Linked DNA regions of Homo sapiens: region 1 is linked to region 2. Evidence: fine-mapped expression QTL. A gene starts in region 2. The other region holds a variant in brackets. All regions are shown on one strand. Distances are from middle to middle.

Region 1 (5,371 bases), 37 kb before region 2:
GACACAGGGAGGGACACCAGCAGGGACCATCTGCGTCCAGCTCTCGGCACCCAGGTCCCCATCTCAGGGATGGTTTCACAAGCAGGGGCTTCCCAACCTCCCGGCCACACCTAGAACACTCCTGAAAGAGGGAGGAGGTGGGCAATGCCAGCCCCCGCTGTGCCCACCCATTTTCCTACTAAAGGCAGGTGGGAAGGGTCTGCCTGGTGCCACCACAGCGATCCCTGCCCATGTTTTCTCTCCTCAGGTTGGCTTAGTGCCAGCTCTGCCACTGGGCCTATGCTCTGAGGACAGGAACGTACCCTGCCCAGGGCATGCCCAGCAGCTGTCAGAAACTGCAGCTCCCTGCTGCCTTGGGCAGAGGCCCTGGCAACTCCCCTGGCCTGGCAGCTTCACATCTGCACCCCATTGCACACTGGTCCTCGGGCACCCGGACAGGACTTTGCCCCATGCACACAGCCAGTAGATGCTCAGAAACACGGGGCTGCAGCAGAAAAGCAGGGTGATCGCAGGATCACCAGACAAGGAGATGGAGGAAACTCAAATCCATCTCCCCGAGGAGGCTGGGGCCCGGGTTTTTAAGGGTTCTGGAGCTCGATAGCTGGAAGGGGCAGCGTGATGTCACAGCACAGGGAGAGGAAGAAGCTGTATTTTCGTGATGATCCTGTTCCTCCGTGGGGGGTTTCCAAACTGGTTGCTGGAATTGGGATCTGAAAAACATCTTGGGCCAGCAGCAGCCTGATTCAAGCTTAATTATGAGTATCTTTCTGTCCAGAACCTGGCATGCAATTCTTGTCAACCTTAGGGGACAGTTTCATTTGCCTTCCTGTGACCATGTGTCCTGGGGCCTGCTCAGCACCTGGTATCATCAGGCCCTGCCCGCCCCTGCCTCACCTCCAGCTTCTACGTCTGGAAGCTCCCTACCTGTCTCAGGCATGGCCCACCTCCCCTCCCACCCCGCATTAGAAGCAGTGGTGGGCTGGGGTCAGGCTGCCCCGGCAGGCTCCTGGTGCGAGCCTCGCACATGGCAGGTCCCCCATTCCCCTCGAGCAGGCCTGGCCTGCCCCAGGCATTGTTTCTATACAGACGGATTTTATGTGCCTTTTGTTTCTTCTCACAAGCCTGACGGTCCGTGGGTTCTTTCCGTTGACGTCATCGCGGCCATCACCACCATCACCCTCTGCACCCAGCAGCAGCCTCCAGCGGGGTCTCCCCAACTCTTCCCAGCACGTAGCTCCCTCCTCCCCTAGGCCAGTTCAGCCACCTTGCAGCTGCTCCCCCATCCCCTGCCCCTCTGCTCACCCATTTTACCCTCAGGTTGGTGTCCTCTCCTGTGCCCCAGGCCTGCTCTGCCTCCCCACCACTGTGGGCGGGGCCTGTCTTAGAGTCCACCCTGCATCTCCCCTAGCACCTGCCAAACAGTCCGTCTTGAATGAGGAAAAAGTGAGAGTGGTGTTTCGAATTAGTCACACCTGGGTTTAGCCCCCCACCCTGCACTCCAAGCTCTTGGTCTCCTCGCCTGCAGAATGGGCACACATGAGAAGAAACAGCATCGCAGGGCCCTCCAGACAGAGCAGGCAGAGGAGGAGAGCACCCATTCTCCCGCTCCCTGCCTTCAGTTGCACGGAGCAAACCCAGAGCCCCCTCCCTGGGGGGTCCTCTTCACAGTTCCTTGACTCCATCGGAGGCTCTCAAAGAGCTGCATTCGCTCACCACCTGCTGGACTGCTTGTTTTCTTCCCTGAAGATGAGTGGCCTCTTTGGGGTGTTAATTCTTAATGATCAACATTTCCTTGTTAATTTCTCTAAACAAATCATCCTAAAAATAGGTTTGACTTTTAAACAATTTTAAATTAAAAACTGAGCTTTTAATATCTGTTTAGACAACTGTAAGACAGTGAAAGGTTTATTGACTTGAAGCCTACATTTTAGGAAACATGTAGTTAAATAAAAAATACCAATTTCAGTATTTTTCATAACCTTTTTGTAACTTTACCACAATCTTTTAGGAACTAACGTCATGAGCTTGGAAGGGAAATTTATTTGAAGTTCAGCGTAAACTGAGTTTCACTTCATTTTTAAAATTCTGTTAATCTCAAGCAAAAGTAAATACATTTTATTTTTTAAAAAAGTTAATAGTGGTTAGCTTTAAGATATTAAAAATAATTATTTTTTGTTATGCTCCTCTGTATTTTTCAAATTTCTACCAAAAATAGGTAAGTTTATAGTCAGAAAAAGCCATAAAATGTAGTTTTTACAAAGAAAACAATGGACAGCCATATTAATGTAATGTGAGGAAAGAAAGCAAAACAACAACAACAACAACAAAAAAAAACGCTAATCTGACAGCAAAAATACACTGAACACATGCTACCCCTTCCATACACGTGTCTCTTTCTCTGCTGTTCAGATGACAGTGATGAGCTGAAACCAAGCTGGTTTCCAGAACAGTTTTTTGTT[T/G]TAACTAAAAGCCACATTCAACTTCCTGTCATCAACAAGCACAAGGACCAGAAGGAGCTGCCTTTGGCTCTGGGGACCCCTCCTTCCTGATGGTAACACTGCAGGTCCCAAGGGACCCCTCACTGCCAACACCAGTGTCAGAGTCACCTGAGAGCCTGGGGAAATGCAGGTTCCAGGACCTCCCCTAGATGGCCAAGCTCAGCCCCTGGTGCTCAGGAACAGAGCGGTTTCTATTCCATCTTCAGAGGCCTAAAGTCTTTTTTTTTTTTTTTTTTTCTGAGACGGAGTCTCGCTCTGTTGCCCAGGCTGGAGTGCAGTGGCGCGATCTCGGCTCACTGCAAGCTCCGCCTCCCGGGTTCACGCCATTCTCCTGCCTCATCCTCCCGAGTACCTGGGACTACAGGTGCCCGCCACCATGTCCAGCTAATTTTTTGTATTTTTAGTAGAGACCAGGTTTCACCGTGTTTGCCAGGATGGCCTCGATCTCCTGACCTCGTGATCTGCCCGCCTCGGCCTCCCAAAGTGCTGGGATTACAGACGTGAGCCACCTAAAGTCTTCTTAAGCAAAGGCTGCAGCAGTTTCAGGGGGGATGTGTGTGACACTAATTAGTGTGAAGGACAGTCCCAGGGCATGCCAGCGCAGGACACAGCTATCCACCAGCACACAGGACCAGCACGTGGCCAGCATTCTCTATGGGGTGGGGCACCAGCACTGCGCTGCTTTTTTGGGATGGAAGGCCAGGCTCCCTGGGCTGCTAAAGCACAAGGCAGGCACAGTCATCCAAAGCCCAGCCATGAAGCTCACCTTCTGGCCCAGAACCAACCACGGGACAGCCATTTGCCAGGTGGCCTCCCTTCACAATGGAGACTCTTTACCGGGATGGGGCGACAATCCCAAGGCCACAGAACTTCCAGTCCCATGCTTCTCTGCCCACTCCCGGCGCTGCACCACCCAGCCTGGGGGTGCCACGTGGTGACCAGAAACCTCGTCATCCTGTCTACCCTTGGTGGGGTCTGGTGTGCACCCACAGACATCCAGGACCCAGGAAAGGCCTCTTGCAGACCTCACACAGCAGTGGGAATGGCCTCCTCTGGGGCCCTCGCTCTGAGTTGACACTGACGTCCTGGCAAGGCCTCCCTGCAGTGCCCAGCTATGAAGCCTGTCCCCTCCCATTCCCCAATCACCCTGCCCTCAACACCCTGGGGCCCAGCTTTCCATCCAGTCCATAGCAGGCACAAAGACGCACGTCCTGCAGCCTCAGGCACAGATACTAGGGGACATGACTGTGGGGGAGGCCCCCGATGCTGCTTCCCCATCTTTTATCCAAATATAGCCCTCCTTGGTACAGGAAGGGCAGGCCTCCCCGACCCCAACGAAGCTTGGGGACACAGTGCACTGTCACTCATAGGAGTGAAAAAGACTGTCCCTGGAAAGTCAGGAGGCAGCGCAGGGGTACCAAGTGCTGCAGGCTGCCAGGAGGGGTGCCCTCCTGGGGGCTGGGCCTGAGACTGAGAGCCAGGCGGGCAAAAGGTCTTGAGACGAGGACGGCGCCATCTCCTTCCGGTGGGAGGCACTACCTCCATCTACCGCCCAGAGGGCCAGGCTGGGGTTGACTTTCCCTACATCCTAAGGCTACATCCCGTACTGAGGATCTCACCTGTGGGACATGTTCCGCTTTTAACACTTACGTTGGAAATAACCCTGGGTTCTGAAAGTGGGGGACAGGTTCATTGCACCCCCTGGCACCTGGTCCTCAGCTCTGAAAATGGAGCAATAAATGCACTGCAGGGGTGTCGGGGGGGACAGGTGAGGGGGCAGGTGAGGGGGGCAGGTGAGGGGAGCAGGTGAGAGGGGGCAGGTGAGGGAGAACAGGTGAGGGGGCAGGTGAGGGGGGCAGGTTAGGGGTGGGTAGGGTGGGGGCAGGTAAGCAGGGACAGGTGACAGGGGTAGGTAAGAGGGGGAGCAGGTGAGGGGTGGGTAGGGCCAGGACACACACGCCAGCAGAGAACTGAGCATCACAGAGGCATGAGGCGTGACACCTGGACTGAAGGCCCCACTAACATCAGTGTTCTTGTCTGGCTCTTTGTCTCTTTCAGATACTTGTTCCCAGGACCTTAACTCACGTGTGAAGCCAGGATTTCCTAAAACAATAAAGACCAATGACCCAGGAGTCCTCCAAGCAGCCAGATACAGTGTTGAAAAGTTCAACAACTGCACGAACGACATGTTCTTGTTCAAGGAGTCCCGCATCACAAGGGCCCTAGTTCAGGTAACGGTCTGGGTTCTGGTCACATATCACGGACACCCCTAGGAAGCCGAGCTGCTACAACGCGACACCTAGGAGAGCAGGGCGGATATAATGTGAAGTCCCTGCTGAGTGCAGAGCTCTGAGCAGAAAGCAGATGCACAAGGGGTGGGAGTGGACAGCAGCAGCTGAGGCCAGCATCCCCCAGGGCCAAGCGCAAAGGTTACACAAAGCACACGGCTCCTGGGTGGTTACCAGGCCCCTGGCCCAGAGCCTACTAGGCATGGGGTAAGGAGGTGCCAGGGCCCTAATGGGGCTCCTGAGGCAGGCGCCAAGGCTGATGGGGGAGAAAGCCGCTGTCCGAGGAGCTGCCCCTGCTGGGACCAGGGTCCTCACCCGGCCTCACCCCTCACGTGCCCTGCAGCCCAGAGGTGTCTTTGCCACTTTCCCCCTGGAGTGCTCACTCACATCCCAGAGTCCAAGAGCTCTGCCCAAGCCACTGCCCTTTCCCTGACTCATTCCTACTGCGCCCGCTCAGCACCCTCCCTCCTAGAGGACCCTTGTCTGTGTCCTGAGAACACCCACTTGCTAATGTGGGATGCAGGCTGTGGATGACACCCACCACCGTGTGCTGGTGCCTGTAAGGGGCAGAAGCAGCCCTGTCCA
Region 2 (5,371 bases):
TCATTTTTCACAATCCTTTAAACTGGGGCTCCTAGATTCATCAATTTATCCTTGAAAAAAATTAAGAAATCAAGAAACAAGTTTAAAAAGCCATCTGAAAATACACACCTGGGGCAAAGCTGAGACAAACACTCCAGCTGCCTTACTCCTCATGAATTCGTGAATGCCCAATCTGTTTCTCCATACTTCCTCCCTTACTCTTCAGTCTCCAAGAGGAAAAAGGAAAATGGACCTAGCAGACTTTTAATTAAACTAAAATCCTTCAGAAGTTTATTGAAAAAGGAGAATTATACAGAATTTAATGTATTGAAACATATTAAATCCTCAATGTATTTATTCTGCATCCCTAAACAGTCACATATGGACATTAAACAGTTCTCTTCCTAGATAGAACTGTGTTTCAAACAGAAAGGAATAGTTCCACAGAGTACAATTAAGTTTCTAAAGCATTTCGGGAAATCAATGTCAAATAATAATTATAAGCTTGCACCGGTATGTTAAAGTACTTAGCTCATCTATGTTCCACACTGAATAAAAGAATTTACCAACCAAATTCTCCATTATATTTCAAATACAGTAATTCAAGAGCTTTGGCATAAAGTCTTATTTCCAAAGCATAATTTTAAAAATACACTTCTCAGTCATTGTCCAGCTGCCAGTTCTATCCTTCTTCATTCATTTTCATTTCTCTTTTGACTCTATTCTCTGTAACTTCATATAAACCACCTCACACACATAGACCTCAATGATCTCATCAGCAAAACAAAGCAAACACCCACCTTTTGTGCCAAGAGTTGGGAGACCACCCAACGTATTACTAGGGGTCCCTACCACTGCTAAAATCTATGTCTTAGTTCTGTCAGTTTAGTAATATGTCTTTCAAGGCTTCCTTTATTCTATTTAGCACATCTAAAGTGCTAAAGTTTATTCTAATAGTTTCGTGTTTTTACTTCTGAATTTAGATTCCTTTACTTCGCCCACTATACACAGGCTTTCCTGGCTTATGTTGAACCCTCGACTTTTAAGGTAATCAAGAATACTATTACATGAACTACTAGAAATGACCACAAAATAAATGAAAAATATAGGAGAAATGCAGAAGAAAAATAAGAAAAACAGCTACCATGTTACAATAATAATTGCGGAAAGGAAGGGTGGTGACAAGACCTCACTTTGAAAGAGATCATTACAGATATACAGAAAAGGGATAAACAAACAAGAAGGACAAACACAGGGAAACAGGAACAATGTTCATGGACAGGGAAGTCAAGGAAATAAGTAAACATAAATGTAAAAGGCACACTGGAAAAGATCAGGCAGTAAAAGATGACTTTAGAATCAGATTTACTTACTCATTAAGGAAGAAATCCCCACAGAGAACCTGAAAAAAACAATTAAGTCTGCCTGCTTGCCCTGGGGCCAGAAGTGTGAGCCAGCCAACTTGAGAGTTGGGACTACCTAACCGGTGCCCTCAGGGGCTGTAGGCCCTGGTTTTCAACACACTGCACCTAATGACAAACTCAGGCCACTGCTCTTCCATTTCTCAGGTAAAAATGCCTTGTTTTCAAGATTTCTGTAGGAAAGTGTTGCCAATTCTTGCATGTCCATTCTAAATGGCTCCTCAATCATCAACAGATGATTAATTCACAATATTCACAGTAAGTAGGGTGATCAGATTGTCCCAGTTTGCCCAGGTTTAGCACTGAAAGTTCTACATCCTTGGAAACCCCAGTCCAGGGCAACGCAGGATGGTTGGTCAGGATATATGGGAGCATCTTCCCGATCTTTTCACTGGCCCAAGGAGTCAACTATCACCGCAAAGTCTTCTCTCTAAATTGCCTCTCTAGAGCCTAAATGCTCCTTCCTGCCATCGCTCTCCTTCAAATGTGTTCCTCTTATCATCAGTCAATAAACTCAGTCTACAGGGGCAAAAACTGCCTCTCATTCATATGTACCCCACCACCTCTTGGCACACTACTGATGAACAAATATTTCCAGTATTTCTATCAAATATAAGTCAATCAGTCCCACAACTTCAAGCTTGGTCTATGGGGCCTCTTGATTCTCCCTGAAACTTAAAAGTTATGAAATTCAGGACACAGAATTGAAAAGTGAATTTTAAGTATCTTATATTGAAATCTATGCTTACGAATCATGATTCAGTTTTTAGCTAACAAAACACAGCATTCTTATATTCTGAAAGATGGGAGAGGAGGCAAAGGGCAAAACCTGATATTTCTTAGGTGTCAACAACTACAGTTTCCTATGTTTCTCCATCCCTATCAGGAAAAACTGCCAGGCTGAATTCTCACAAAAATTGCCTACAATGTCACTACTGTTCTCCACTCTTTCCAAGAACCGCGGTGAGGACTGGTCACGCAGCGTGAGGGGGGCAGGTGCAGAAGAGCAAGTGTAGAAGCCATCTCTTCGCCGGATAACGAGGCAGGACCCCAGCATCTCGTGGGACCTCCTCCCTTCGGGAAATTGCGAGCGGGGAACCAGGAACACGCAGGGCCCCGGCCAAGTAGCTGTGCTCAGGGGGATCATTTAAGCCAAAGGAAGGACAGCGCGAGGGGAGCGAGGGAAAGGCGAGGAAGCAACCGCTATGCAGGGTGGGGCAGGAGTGAGGGAGGGAAGGCAAAGGAGCGGCGCGAGGCGGTCTCGGGTCCGGAGAGCCGAGGACAACGCGGCGACTGGGCGCAGGGTGCACCCGAACCTGAAAGACCTGGCAGGTACATCCGCCTTGTCGGAGCCTGCTTCCTCGGAAAAATGAGTTTTTCTTGGGGATGAAACGAGAGGACTCTGACAACGCGCTCGGCACCGCATCCCCAGGTTACTGTTACTGCCGTCGCCGCTGTCCAAGAGGGTCGCCCTCCACTCCTAGCGGCCCGGCTCCAGCGCCCAGTCTGGGAGTCCGCCCTACCTGCCGTCCTTAGCCTCCGGGGCCTGGCCATCATCGTCTGTGACGACCTGCGGCCGCAGGGGCCGGCGCTGTCGCAGCCCGTCCGCCTCGCTCATGGTACGGGCGCCAGCCTCACCCGCAGAAACCACCTCACACTGAGCGGCGCCGGCTCAGACTCCAGGCCCGCCCTCCCCCGTACGCGGAAATGACGTTGCGCCCAGGGACCATTCCGCAGCGTTCTCCCCGCCCCTTCCGGCCTCATGGGCGGGAGGTCCCCGGCGCGTCGTTGCTCGGCGCTCTGAGGCTAATTCTGACCGCCCGGAAGTGGGGCTCGGAACCCGCTCAGAGATAGCACCGGGAGCTGCCGGGGTCCCCGCCTGTCTCGGACTCCGGGGCCCAGAACGCGAGTGGTTCAACCTCGGGCTCGTCTAGCCCAGTGCCTGCGCATGCCGCCTTCGTCTCACGTTTCTGAGGACGGGGATGCTCATGACGCACTTGGGAATTGCTAGCACGAGATGTTGGCCACTTTTATCGTTGGAGAGGATAGCGCTGTTTATTCAGTGTCAGCGACCCTGCTCTTACAGGCAGCGTCAAAAATAATGCATTCACACCCTTGGAACGAAGTCACCTCTGCCTGAAAATTACATCCTTCCCCGACTCAGCCGGTTAAGGGGAAAACTTGGGCTAGAAAATGTTTCCCTCTGGTTAAGGCCAGATGTTGAGTATTAAATCTTTTTGTGACGATTACAACAGACATTTGATAAAGTTTATTAAGTTTTGATAAAGTTTATTAAGTTTTGATAAAGTTTATTAAGGATTACCCTTAAGTAAAGTCCAGGTAGAAGTAGAAATTATCACTAACAAAGTTTAAGAAAGCATAGAGAGGCATTGTTCTTTCAACAGTATTGCAGGAAACCAGAAATGTTCCCAGGTGCTGGGAGACGATGGTGGGCAAATCACAGACAAGGCCCCTCCTTATAGAAATTAAACTAGTGGGAAAGATGACTTTAATCAGATCATCATCATAAAATAGACGTAAAATTATCAAACGTAATAATTGCTTCAAAAGGGAAGAGCTGAATCTTGTGAGAGCATTTGAGATTCAAAGAGGAATCGAATCTGGAGGAAGTGACAGGCAGAAGAAATCAAAGCCCGTTACCAGTGGCACGAGGAATTATCTCTGGAAAAGCCATGTTCAAAATGCAGTGTTAAGAAATAATTTCCTCTTGGAGGCTTTTACCTTTTTAAATGCTAGATGGCACTAGAATTCCATGTGAATGCTTTTTATTTATTCATTCAAAGAGCGGAAGAACCAGCTTGAGGGAAGTGGAGAGCTGTGCAAATCCAGTTCTCCAGAGATCCCAGGTAATAATTCAGGCCTCGACAACATTTTACTTCATTCTGTGTCATTGAGAATAGCCAATACAGCTATTAAATCAGGGATAGTGTTAACAAAGTACTGTATGATCTCACGCCTTCCTGCCTGTCTGGACTATCCCTCTTGCTCCCCACCCCCCATTTCAGACATTCAGGATGGCTTAACATGTCTAATCTCATGCCTGGCTGCCTTTGTCCTTGAGGTTCCTTCTTCCTGTGATACACTCTCCTTCACCTCCACTTGGCCAATTATTTTTATCATTCAGGACCCACTTCAAGTATCCTTGCTGAAAATTCTTCTCCCAGTTTCCCAAGCAGAACATCTTCCTCTTTGTCTTCAAGGCACTTTAAACATGTCCCAGCCATAACATTGAACTCACTGCATTGGAGCTATTTGTGTTCCATGCCCAGTGTTAAAGCCCACGCACTGCAAACACCCAGGGACACATTCAGAAGAAAAATAATGGCAGTAAGTTGGGTTTACTGAACTTGCTGCAGCAAAGAAATGCACCAGAGGACCGGTGAGGTTCCTCAAAATGGGGGAGTCATGGGAGACTCCTTGTGGGGTTTGGGGGCTGGAGTTAGTCCATCGATAGTCTTGCCCAGGGTTGGTCAGAATCCGTTAACAACGGGAGTCACTGGAGGAACCGTGGCCTTAGCTCTGGGACATGTAAGTCCATTCGGAGTTATCAGGAGGTCAGCTCGTGGGCTTATCATGAAGCACGTAGGTAGTTGGTGTTACAGTGGTCTGAGCTAGATCATTTGTGCTGCATAGCACGGGTTCAGTACAGTTTTTCTGTTTTCAAGTCACGGTGAAGCACGCTTTGCTTGTTGTATTTGTTTCAGTTATCAGTTCTCCCACCCCACCTTCCAACCAGACCGACTTTGTTTCTCATCGTGCTGATGCCAGTTGTTGGCAGAGGAATGGGACCACTATGATTAATTTGATCAGGTTTCTCAGCACCACTGATATTTTGGGCCAGATAATTCTGTTAGGAGGCGGAGGGGGGCCTCTCCTGTGCGCTGGTGTTTCAGCAGCATCCCTGGGCTTCCCCCACTAGATGGCAGTAGCATCCCACCTAGTCGTGATGA

The links. PIP is the estimated chance that this variant, and not a neighbour inherited with it, causes the effect.
Region 1: its variant is the best candidate, but not a certain one, in a credible set for the expression of APMAP in whole blood (TOPMed, PIP 0.83).

Annotation. Positions count from the first base shown.
Region 1 is chr20:24,952,731-24,958,101 of GRCh38, forward strand. It overlaps CST7 (cystatin F), which reads left to right. Exons shown (of 4, transcript NM_003650.4): 2 at 4,557-4,729. Among named protein-coding and RNA genes, the nearest start is that of CST7, 6.1 kb to the left of the region's middle. RefSeq lists an enhancer at 2,518-2,647. The variant T/G (reference allele first, on the strand shown) is at 2,460.
Region 2 is chr20:24,989,671-24,995,041 of GRCh38, forward strand. APMAP (adipocyte plasma membrane associated protein) reads right to left here and starts at 3,081. Exons shown (of 9, transcript NM_020531.3): 1 at 2,924-3,081. The coding sequence starts at 3,018. RefSeq lists enhancers at 2,634-3,134, 2,693-2,752, 2,773-2,852, 2,983-3,222, 3,135-3,635.